3 linked regions of the Homo sapiens genome follow. The gene in region 2 interacts genetically with the main gene of each other region. Each region holds a gene or a part of one and is shown on either strand. Other genes may lie near its edges. The genes, in order: MAP3K10, TSPO and AGPAT1.

Evidence for each region.
Region 1: changes in TSPO (region 2) and MAP3K10 together harm fitness more than expected from each alone (negative genetic interaction), as found in Homo sapiens cells (one large-scale study listed by BioGRID).
Region 3: changes in TSPO (region 2) and AGPAT1 together harm fitness more than expected from each alone (negative genetic interaction), as found in Homo sapiens cells (one large-scale study listed by BioGRID).

The regions. Positions count from the first base shown.
Region 1 is NC_000019.10:40,211,846-40,215,489, reverse strand, and holds part of MAP3K10 (mitogen-activated protein kinase kinase kinase 10), read right to left. Parts: intron 2,686-3,644; coding exon 2,514-2,685; intron 2,415-2,513; coding exon 2,302-2,414; intron 2,102-2,301; coding exon of another isoform or gene 1,974-2,101; coding exon 1,269-1,973; intron 841-1,268; coding exon of another isoform or gene 824-840; exon of another isoform or gene 589-823; intron 521-588; coding exon 198-520; 3' UTR 1-197. UniProt on the Homo sapiens protein: Activates the JUN N-terminal pathway.
Region 2 is NC_000022.11:43,154,540-43,158,183, reverse strand, and holds part of TSPO (translocator protein), read right to left. Parts: exon of another isoform or gene 2,246-3,644; intron 1-2,245. UniProt on the Homo sapiens protein: Can bind protoporphyrin IX and may play a role in the transport of porphyrins and heme. Promotes the transport of cholesterol across mitochondrial membranes and may play a role in lipid metabolism, but its precise physiological role is controversial.
Region 3 is NC_000006.12:32,173,141-32,177,413, reverse strand, and holds the start of AGPAT1 (1-acyl-sn-glycerol-3-phosphate acyltransferase alpha isoform 1 precursor), read left to right. Parts: upstream 1-1,329; 5' UTR 1,330-1,600; intron 1,601-4,273. UniProt on the Homo sapiens protein: Converts 1-acyl-sn-glycerol-3-phosphate (lysophosphatidic acid or LPA) into 1,2-diacyl-sn-glycerol-3-phosphate (phosphatidic acid or PA) by incorporating an acyl moiety at the sn-2 position of the glycerol backbone.

The sequences.
Region 1 (3,644 bases), on a different chromosome or scaffold from region 2:
CCCAGTGCAGGGTGGGCACAGGGCTCCACCCCCTGGGGTACAAAGGAATAAGTTAAGTGTCCCCCCCCTCCCTCCTTCCCCAATAAATAGAGTGAACATCCTGCCCAGGGCCTCCCCCACCTTGTGGCATGGCGGGCTGGGGCAGGGCCTGGGGCGCTACATTCATGGCTGCCCAGGCGGGCGGTGGTGGGCAGGCCTTAGTGGGAGCCGTGGGCCCCGCACAGGGGCACTGTGCTGTCTTGGTTCTGCCCCTCCATGTCCATGTCCAGCAGTGTGGGCTGCACGCTGGGGGGCCCAGGGCTCTCCGGAGTGTCTGGCCTGCTGGGAGGCGAGATGGTGAGTGTCCGGCCGAAGGAGACCAGTTTCCAGGGGTCCAAGCGGGGGCGACTGGCAGCCGGCCGAGGTCTCGGGGCAAAGGTCAGGGTGGTGGGGCGGCCTGGGAACTCAGGGGGCCGGCGGCGGGCTGGGAACAGGGCCTGGGGGTCGGGCAGGCGGGGGAAGTCCAGAAGGTCACGAGGGCCTGGTAAGAGAGGTTCAGAGGAGGTGAGTGGGGTGGGGCAGAGGGTGGCATTAAAAAGCCCAGAGCTGTTACATGAAAAGCACAAGTTCTGGTTTCTCTCGAGAAATCCGTGGATCTTGCTGCATCCAGTTTCCATCTGTAGTGTGGCAGTGCTGGGACCTTGACCTAGACTGGGACCACTCCCAGCTGCTTGCTCCTCTGGGTGGACCCTGGCATGTTCCTCAACCTTCTGGAACTGCTGCTTAGCGGCAGCCTCGGGGGCCAAAGCCCTGGTCTTCCCGACTCTCCTGCACTGGGCTAAGCTCAGGCATGGCTTAGCTCTGAAGGGGGATAAAAATGGTGCCTCACCACGCAGGTGAGGAGCAAATAGAATAACCATAACTTAAAACAAGCAGCACAGTGCCTGACGTGGGTACTTAATAACACTGCTATGGCCGCATCTCCCACCCAGTTAACAGATGGAGGAGAACAGTGTCTAGGCTGTGTAAGAATTGGCGATGGTCATGCTGGTCACAACCGCTATAGGCACCTGCCTGGCCTTATAGGCATCAGTTTGCCGCCTGTGTCTCAGTCCCCTGGAGACCCCCGATGCCTCCAGGAGTGAGCGGTAAAGGGACACAGACCCTCCCTCCTCCACAAGAAGCAGGAGGTGGCTGCCTGAGGGGTCGTGGCTGGGCTGGACTTGCGACCCTGGCAGAGGAGGAAAGAAGGGGTTTTCTGTGACCTGGGTGCAGGGCGCCTCACTCACCAGGGCCATGGCCCGCGGGCTCGGGCGGCCCCCGCTGCCCCAGCGCCCCGTCCGATGGCGTCCGCCGGTGCCCGCGGCTCACAGCGCATGCAGCCGTGACGTGGGTGGGCGTGAGCGACTGGCGGGGGTCCTTCTTGAAGCTCTCCAGCTCCAGGTCCACCAGGGGGTTGGTGCTGGGCGAGGGCGTGGGTGTGGGCGCGGGCGGGGAGGGTGGTGGGGAGGGCGCGGCCGGTGCGGCCTCGTCACTGTCAGAGCGCAGCAGTGAACGCGTGGAGTTGCAGTCGGACACGGACGACAGCGACACGAGGGTGGCCGAGGGCGCCAGGCCCAGGCCGGGGCCCACGTCTTCGCGGCGGCCGTGGGGACGCGCGGGTGGGCTGAGGCCCCGCGGGAAGCGGCCGGCGCGGGGAAAGAAGAGGCCGTCGAGCCAGCGCCGCTGCTCCTCACCGTCGGCCGCGCGCGCCTCGGCCACGTCGGCGCCCAGGCCCACAGCCCCCAGCAGCGTGGCGCAGCCTAGCAGCGCCAGGTCGCAGCGCCGCCGGGCGCCGTGTCCCCACCGAGCGGGGGGCGCGGACGGCGTCGGCTCCCACGGCGCCCGCGCCCCCGGGGAGGGCTCGGCAGGCAGTGGCACTGAGAGGTAGGACGGGGTCGAGTAGGGGGAAGGGGGCACGCTGCTGCCTCCATCCTCTGCCTCCGCGAACTCCTCTGCAACCGGAGAGGGCCATCACTCCGCTGCAGGGCTGGCCAGGGCCCCACGGGGACTTGTGCCAAGGGACAGCCCCCGATGACCCCTCCAACAGCAAGACCAAGACCCACGAGCATCGTTCTTGAATCTGTCTCCAGGAGAAGCCTCAGAGAAGGGTGGTCCCTGCCCCTGGAAATGACCCCCCACGCCCCAGGGGCCACCATCTCCCTTCCCAGGAAGGCCTTCCACTCACTGGCCCAGTGAAACCTGGTCTCTTCGCTCAGCCCCAGGAGGCTCACCCCTTTGGCCAGGGAACCCCCACCCCCTTACAAGAACCCAGGCTCTTACCCATCTCATTGAGGCTGGCAAAGCCAGGGGCGATGGGTGTGTGTTTGGGGGACTTGCCCAGGTTGGGGGCACTTGATGACCACTGTTTGCTTCCTTCCCCCAGCCCCTTCAGCCTGCGGGGTCCAGGGAGAGATGGAGACCTCAGTCCTGTGGCCTGGAGCCTGGGAGCTGGGGCTTGGGCACAGGGTGGGCATGACCACACCACACCTCACCTCTCCTCTCCTCCCACCCGCTCCTTCTGCAGGGTGGAGCTGGGCCCCCACGTTCGTCCCTTCTTCTTGCCCCCGACCAGTTCTTCCTTCTTTGGGGGCCCACCGCGGCTCCATGTCCCACTTCCTCCACTGCTGCTGCCACTGCTGCTGCCACCACAGTCCACGGGAGTCACTGGGTCCAGAGAAGCCACTTGGTTACTGGGTGGAGGATCTGTCCCCACTGGGCTCCCAGCCTCCAGTGCCCCCAGCTCAGGCCCACCCTCCGCCTGGGAGTCCAAGGGCTCTTTTGAACTCCAGTCATGACCCTCCCTGCTATATATCTCCCCATAGCCCCCTACTGCTGTCAGGACAAGGTTCCAGCTCCTCCGCCTGGCACTGAAGGCCATGAGCGGTTCCCTGCCAACTCCTCCAGCCTCCCCTCCTCTTCACAGCCTAACCCTTCACCATTCATTCTGGCGGGCTGCCTGCGCTTCTGGTCTCCAGCTCTGGGTAGTTAGTTCCCTGGGGGTCAGCTGCCTTCATCTCTGTACCTGCAATGCTCTGGACCTATCTGGTGCCAGTGTTTGCTGCCATGGTATGGGTATTTGTCTCTGTGTCCCCTGCAGGACTGACCTCCTGGGCCTGGTACAAAGCAGGTGCCCAGACAGAGGGCAGGGGGGCTGTGGGTGGGGACAGTGCTGGGGTGAATGAGGTGTTGGAACTTGGGAGCTAGCCTTTCACCCTTCAACCCACCAGGAAACTCCGATGACCGTGTCTCTGCCATATAGCCCCGACTGTGGACATCTGTCCCTTCCAAGTCCCCCACCCTGGCCTGGCCTCCATCATCTCACTGCTTTCTCCACCTTTATTTCTTACAGCAGCCAGAGGGAAAAAGGTCAATTTGATTCCCTCAGTGCCTTGCTCGCATGGCTCTGGGGGCTGCCCCAGGGCAGTTAAAAGAAAATCCATACCAGGCCAGGTGCGGTGGCTCTTGCCTGGAATCCCAGCACTTTGGGAGGCCCAGGCAGAAGAATCACTTGAGGTCAGGAGTTGGAGACCAGCCTGGCCAACATGGTGAAAACCCCATCTCTACTAAAAATACAAAAATTAGCCAGGCATGGTGGTGCAGGCCTGTAGTCCCAGCTACTTGGG
Region 2 (3,644 bases):
AGTCCAGGGGACATGGAGGCAGCCAAGCGGGGGTAGAGGGGTGTCAGCAGAGACTGTGCTGAACTTGGGCTTTGGCAGGGGCAAAGGGCAAAGGGCAAATCTGGCCCCAGGGAGAAGGGGCGGCTGCTGGCCTGGGATCCATGGAGCTGGGTGAGCACAGAAGCAACCTCAGTGCCCAGCAGCCAGGGACTATTAAAGACTGGCCCCCCACAAACCAAGCTTCTGAAGGCTTTCTAGTAACGAGAAAGTTGTTCTCAACATAACACGAAGAAAGCAGAATATAACATTGACTACAGAATGACCCCAATTTTGGCAAAAAATGGATAACATAGATATGCGCTTTTTTTGAGACAGAGTCTTGCTCTGTTGCCCAGGGTGGAATACAATGGCGCGATCTCAGCTCACTGTAACCTCTGCCTCCCAGGTTCAGGGGATTCTCCCGTCTCAGCCTCCTGCCTCCCAAGTAGCTGGGATTACCAGCATGTGCCACCATGCCGGGCTAATTTTTGTATTGTTAGTAGAGACAGGGTTTCACCATGTTGGCCGGGCTGGTCTCAAACTCCTGACCTGAGTTGATCTGCCTGCCTCAGCCTCCCAAAGTGCTGGGATTACAGGCGTGAGCCACCGCGCCCGGCACGTTTTAAAGGAACAGAGTGTCAGGCATCCAGCAGATTCCGGTGCTGCCACTTACTATGATTCCCTCCCCTCCCTGGACCTCAGTTTTCTCGCCTGTTGAATGGGGACAGTTACCCCATCCCCCAAGGTCGCTGCAAAAATGAGCAGTAAGGATGGACATTCTGGGGGGGTGGGCATGTGACCTATGTCCCGGCAAGAAACGTTCCTGTGTTCTCCCTCCCGCTCCCTCCTGCCCCGCCCCTCCCTCCTGCCCCGCCCCGCCCTCCTGCCCCGCCCTCCAGCTTCCAGGGTACACGTGCTCATGGGGTGGGGATGGGGGTCTGATGTCACTACACATATGAAAGGCCACCCTCCCTGGGGCAGGAGGTACTGCTGAGCACTGGCCCTGCACCACCGCCAAGTGGATATGGAGCTCTGGACCACAGCCCTGGGACCACCTCCCAGCTCAGCCTCCCACTACATCCTCTCAGGTAAGCCCAGGCCAGCTCAGCCTACTGCTCATCTGGGCAACCAAGACATAACCGCTGCTCTGCTGGAGCCTGCGTGAGTCCACAGCTGAGTGACATTGTGGGGGAACCATAAGGAGCCTCGTTCAGCCTCCACTGGAAACGAGCCGGACCAGGGTGCCTGTACGTGCCTTTTCCCAGGACACCCTCAGTTGAGGCCCACCTGCCCCACACTAATGGCCTGCTCTCACTCACAGGTGTCCCTGTCCAGGCGAGCAAGGTTAATACCACCAGCATAAGACACGTGGACATCCCGAACCCCTTGATACGACATGGAAGCTGGTGCGCTTTCAGTGATGTTCATGCCACAAATGGAAACCCCCAGTGCAGGCGTGAGCCACCGTGCCCAGCCTAAAATTAACCGTTTTAAAGTGCACCATTCAGCAGCATTTGTATATTCCCAATGTTGTGCAACCACCCTCTGTATCAAGTTCCAAAGCATTTTCAACCCCTAAAAGAAACCCCGTATCCATCAGCAGTGGTTCCCCTCCCCCTCCCTCCCACCCCTGGCCGCCAGCAATCTGACTTCTCTCTGGGGACTTGCCCATCCTGGACATTTGGTATCAATGGAATCACGCAGTGTGTGGCCCTCGTGTCTGGCTTCCTTCACTGAGCGCCATGTTCTAGAGGTCCTCACCTTGTAGCACGTGGCAGAACTCCCCACGATTCTGTCACCTGGCTCCAGCACCCAGCCAGGGCCAGGCACACACTCGGTCCCCAGGAAATCACAATGGGACTCACCCAGTGTTCCCACTGACAGGGCCTTAGAGACCACCATCCAGGTCCCCCGTTGTATGGAACGAATAAAAGTCACAGAGGCATGGTGGCTTTCCCAAGGCCACAGCAAGAGAGCAGGGTCTGAAGCCAGTTCTGAGTCCCGTGCTCACACTCCCACCCCAGGCTGCCCCCTTCTCAGGCCTGGCTGTGGTTATGACCCACAGGGCCAAGGGGCTCAGAGGGTCTGCCCCACCAGAAAACAGGCGGTCAGATGCCCCACAAGGAGAAAGCCTGGTCGGGGGCGGGGAGTTTCCTAGGGCCTCTGGGGAACTGCCCAGCTCCTGAATTGCCCAAATGGGGAACAGGTGGGCAGGGGCGGTACCCACCATGATGAGTCATGCTGAGCCAGGCTAGGCAGGATCCAGATATCTGCTCTGGGATGAGTCCAGGGAAAGCTGGGGTGGGCCAGGCCAGGGGGCACACATGGCAGGGACAGGACTCAGGCTCAGGCAGAGGGGTGAAGCCACCTATACACCCTTTATTTGTCTCCTTCAGAAAGCGAATCGGGATCCAGACCTCGGCTCTGCCTCCATCCAAGGCTCGTCTCTGGGCCTGGCTTCCTCCAACGTCAGGTGGGTAAACCCGCTGTGTCTGCTTCTTGGGGGGCTGGGGTAGCTCAAGGGAGGAAGGGGTGGGACAACAACGTTTCCCTGAAAACTCCAGAGAAGAGAGGGGTTGTGGGTATCAGTGTGGGGCCACTAGCCCCATTTCCTCCAGGGGAAGACAGGGCCTCAAGGCTTGGACCTGTGACGAGACCTTATCAGCCACGAGAGCCCCTGGACACTCCACAGGTGAAAATGCCCTGCACGGAGCAGCGCCCCCAAAACAGGGGCAAGATCGGGGCAGGGTAGAGGGCGCAGGACGTAGAGGCAGGAGAAGGTTCCAAGCCTTGCTCAGCTCTGGTTGTGCACAGGCCTCTGGTAGGCAGGGGCCTGCGTGGTGGAGTCCGTGCTCATCCCGACGGTCACCGCCTTGTTCAGTCCCCACAGCAGCCACAGGGGACCAGCTGCTTCTCCCTGAGCCACACGGCCCACTCGGCCTCCATGGTGGACTCGTGACTGGTCCCATTTTCCAGATGAGGAAACTGAGACATGAGAAGTCACAGAACTTTCTAGGTCCGAGTGACTCCAAAACCCACCCCACCCCTCCCTTTGAGCTGGGTGTCTGCCGGGCTGCTCTGGGCCGCGTGACCACTTGCCAGGAGTTGTGTCACCGCCCGTCTCAGCCTCCTTCCTCATCTGAAACAGGGCTCATAGAGCCTGCGGCGCCAGGATTGGACCCGCAGGCCACTCCACCCCACCTCTGAACGGTGCCAGAAGGTTCTCTCAGGGCCAGTAGCATCACTCTCTCCACCTGCCGCGGCAACATCCCAGCCCCCACAGAGCATCGGGCCCTGCAGAATCTGAGCCCTTCCCCACTGAGGGTGGGACCCAGGGTCTCCAGGTCTTGTGAGGCTTCACTCCTGGCCCGAAGACCCCAGACCCATCGCTGCCCCAAGGTATCTCATCTCCTGAGCCTCTGTGTCCCCATCTATGAGGTGGTGGTCGAGCCAGTGGGTTTCAGGGTGTCTTTCTGTTCTTGGAGACCTCCCTATAGGTGACCCAGAAGGCCAGGAACGGTGGCTCACACCTGTAATCTCAGCACTTTGGGAGGCTGAGGCAGGCAGATCACCTCAGGTCAGGAGTTCGAGACCAGCCTGGCCAACATGGTGAGACCCCGTCTCTA
Region 3 (4,273 bases), on a different chromosome or scaffold from region 2:
GAGTGGTGCAAAAGGGACAAAGCCCGCCCCTTTTAAGGAGACCCGCGGAGGCTAGACCCGCCCTTTCCTCTTTATAATTTGCCCATCAGAAATAGGGTCTTCTTCCCAGGTTGGACCCCGGGGAGTTTGGGCTTTTCCTACAATCACTGACCCTCACTGTGACTAAAGGAGCAGAATTAGGTAACAGTCCTCCCACTACCAATCCTCTTCCCGAGGGCATGTAAACTAATGCAGGGTAAAGGTGTGGCTAGAGGGGGGACCTTGATAAAAGATCCCATGTGACTCAAGAGTAAGGAAAGATGAGAAGTTAGCAGTTGCGTAAAGAAGGACTGGGGCAGATGAGGATTCAGGAAGCTTGAGGTTTAGGAAGGAAGATATTGAGAGGGAAAGGTGGAAATGAAGGAGAGTGAAGTGATGGAATGATCCTAGTAAAGGGATAATGGGAGTGGAGGAAGAGAAGAGGGGGTGGAAAACTAGATACATGGCTACCAAATTAAGGAGGCACGCGCATTCCAGAGGAATCGGCATTCTTCCTCACTTTTTATTTTTCTAGAAAGCACCCCTGAAGCCAAATTTCCATTGGAAGAAAAGATGTACCCATATTGTATGTTGTGAGAAGGGGTTGTCTCAGCTTGGGCAAGTAAGGAGACTGATACGAAGGAAGTAGGAAAGAAAAGGTACAGAGGTAAAAGAGCATGGAAAAGGAAAGGGTCAGGGATAAGGCCAAAGAGATCTCTTCTCTTTAAAGGCCAGAGAAGGCAGGTGGAGGGGGGAGCTGGACTGCTGGGAGATAGTGAGGGACAAAGGGCAAAGGAAACCAGACCAGAGGACTGGAGAGTGAGATGGAGTGAGATGGAGTCCTGGAGAGAAAAAGAAGAGAGGTGAACTTAATGCTTGTCATATGGTAGGTAGATGCTTGATAAATGTTTAGAATTGAATGGGTACGGGAAAAGGGGTCCTTAAGAATAGTTGGGGGGAATAAGCAGCAGATAACCGGAGTTGAGAAAAAAAGAGACCAAGTAAAAGTGGCAGTTAAAAGAGAGCTGATGGAGAATAAAGGAAGGAATGTGCGGAAGGAGGAATACAGCACCAGGGGATCCAGAGCTGAAAGGGAGTTAGAGAAAAAAAAGATGCAGCTGGAGCCAGAGATGGGGGCAAAGACCGAGGGAGAGCCCTGGGGCGGGGCTCGCAAGAGGACACTGGTAGATGTGGGGAGGAGATGCCAGAGTTTCTGGGAGACGATTGGCAAAACAGGCTGCCCATCACCGCCCTCCACTTCCTGGCCGGCCCCGGAAACCAGCAGGCGTTGGGGAGGGGTGGCGGGGGAATAGCGGCGGCAGCAGCCCCAGCCCTCAGAGAGACAGCAGAAAGGGAGGGAGGGAGGGTGCTGGGGGGACAGCCCCCCACCATTCCTACCGCTATGGGCCCAACCTCCCACTCCCACCTCCCCTCCATCGGCCGGGGCTAGGACACCCCCAAATCCCGTCGCCCCCTTGGCACCGACACCCCGACAGAGACAGAGACACAGCCATCCGCCACCACCGCTGCCGCAGCCTGGCTGGGGAGGGGGCCAGCCCCCCAGGCCCCCTACCCCTCTGAGGTGTGGGCGGGAAAGGGATGGGAGGAGGAGGGAAGAGGGTGCTGAAAGCGACTAGGATGAGGGGAAGGGGAGAGATTGGGTCTGGGAGGGCCGACTGGGGGAGAGGGTTGCTGGGGAAAGGAGAGGGGCCGACTGGGAAGAGGGTTGCTGGGGATAGGAGAGGGGACCTGAGAGGGAGGAAGGATGGAAGAGACCTGGGAGGGAGGAGAAATGGAAACCCTTGTGAATTTGGGACTGGGAGCGTGCACAGGGAATCCTGGAGAGGGAATTCCCTACACCTTCCCCAATTCCTTTTCTTGCCCTTTGACCCCACATGACTCTTGAAGGGTCATGAGGGGAGAAGGCCAGCAGAATTTGCCTCTTAGGAATACCCTTAGGTGCCTCTGTTTCCATCTAGGCACAGGACCTCTTGTTTCTCAGTGGCCTTCCACACTGCTAGACCCTTACTGACACACAAATGCCTTATGGGAGCCATGTTTTCTACATTGAGTCTGTGTGCCTTTGACATGTTTAATGGCTTGTGTGCAACTAGGTTGTCCCAATGCTATCCATAGGCTGTGTAGAAATGGTGTGTTATTTTCTATCAGAATTGCCCATTCTTCATTCTTGTGTCCATGTCTCACATCCAGTTTTGACATGTTTTAAGTACCGCATGTGTGTGAGTTTTCATATATTGCACCTGTTCTATAATTTCATGTTACTTGCACATTTTATGTTTTGGCATGTTTATTTCAGCATGTGAAGGTTATATACCTTATTTTGCTTTGGCTGACATGTCCATGGTCCTACCATTTGCAGTAGTCTTCATGTGTGGGATCCCATGGCTTGGCTGAATACCCCACACTCTGATGTCTGACTGAATTGGCCTGTTTGCTGTGTTTTCCCAGTCACAGTTCACAGAACACATGTGTATGCGCCTTTGCATGATACACTGATGTAACAGGACCATAGAATGTGTGTTATAAATTTGTCATCAGTATATTTTGTGAGCCGTATGCTCATTAAATTTGGCCCTCCATTGCATTTCTAAATCCTTGGACTTTTGTTCTCCAAAGAGGGTCACTTAATATCAAGTGTTAAGAGAAGAAGGTAACTGGGTCTCCAGGTCTGCAAAGAACCATCCCTGCATGCCTTACCTTGGTGACCTCCCTGGCCCATACCTCTCTACACAAACATTATCTTTCCAGTGGCTGTGTACAGTCTGTGTCCATGAGCTCAATGCATGTCACAGGGTCAATCCTGCTGTGAACCCCATTGTTGGTATTTATTTATGGACATTATCCTCCATTCTTTGCACTGTTGGCACACATTTGATGAGAGCAGCATCTTTCCCTGTGGCATCTTGATCCCATTCGGTACATTTCTCTTGTGAGATGACCTCTTCCTGATTATTGTTACTCTGCCTTCATTATGGCTATGTATTGCATGTATCTATTCAGAGTCGGTTACCATTAGGCTTGGTGTGTTCGTTACTTTCTCAGTGACTTCTTTTAGTAGTCACTTCTACTCAAGAGGATAACTATCTAATTTGTGATCAGAACCGCCATCTCTGTCATTAACTGTGGCTCTATGGGTGGGTATACAGCCTTAGAATCTGTTCAGCAAGTGTTTATTGAGCACCTACTCCATCTCCTATTGTCCTGGCACTGGAGATAAGACAGAGTCCCTGTCCTTAAGCTGCTTACAGCCTAAGGAGGGAAACAAAAACGCCAGTCAACACATAGTGTGTTGTCAAGATCAGTGGTTCTTAAATTCAGGCGCACATCAGACTCACCAGAGGGCTTGTTGAAATACAGATTGCTAGCCAGCCACGATGGCTCACACCTGTAATCCCAACAGTTTGGAAGGCTGAGGCAGGAGGATCGCGTGAGTCCAGGAGTTCAAAACCAGCCTGAGTGACAGAGTGAGAAAAAGAAAAACAGATTGCTGGACCTAATGCCCAGAATTTCTGATTCAGTAGATCTGGGGTGAAGTCTAATAATTTGCATTTCTATACTTCGAGACCCGCTGATCAAGATAAAAGTGTAAGGAAAGCACAGGCCTGGAGGGGTTCAGGCAGCCCTCCAAAAGGTGACACTGAGCTGTGTGAGGCAGGAGAAGAGACAGGCATTCCAGCCAAAGGGAACAGCATGTTCAAGGTGGGGAAGCATGAAAGATCATGGTGTCTGAGGAACTGAAGTGAATCAGTTTGACTGGAACAAAGAGTTTTGTGAGGATGTGGTCGAAGATGTAAGCAGAAGTCAACTTATCAAGAAGAGCCTTTAGGCAAGACAGGGAAATGCTCTGTGTTTCAGAAAAATCTGTGCTAACAGAAAAATCTCTGTGGTTGCTACGTGGAAGATGGATTGGAGGGAGTTGGGAGCCTACTCCACATAGTTCAGGGGAGAAATGATGCTGTTCTGAACTTGTAGGGGCAGTGGGATGGAGCAGCTCAGAAAGCCTACGGTATTCCAACTGGCAGGGTCTCCTGTTTCCTCTATTGCCTGTTACCTTCTCGCTTGGCAATAGGCTTACCTTTGAGCATAGCCCTTCCCATCATGGGAAGACAGTGCCTGTGGCCTCAGTAGGAATGACAGGTATTTGCCTGAACACCCTTTTTGTGAATTGTTACCCTGCCCCCAACACTGGGGCAGAGTGGAGGAAGGAGGAAGAACCTAGAACACAGGTTCTGTG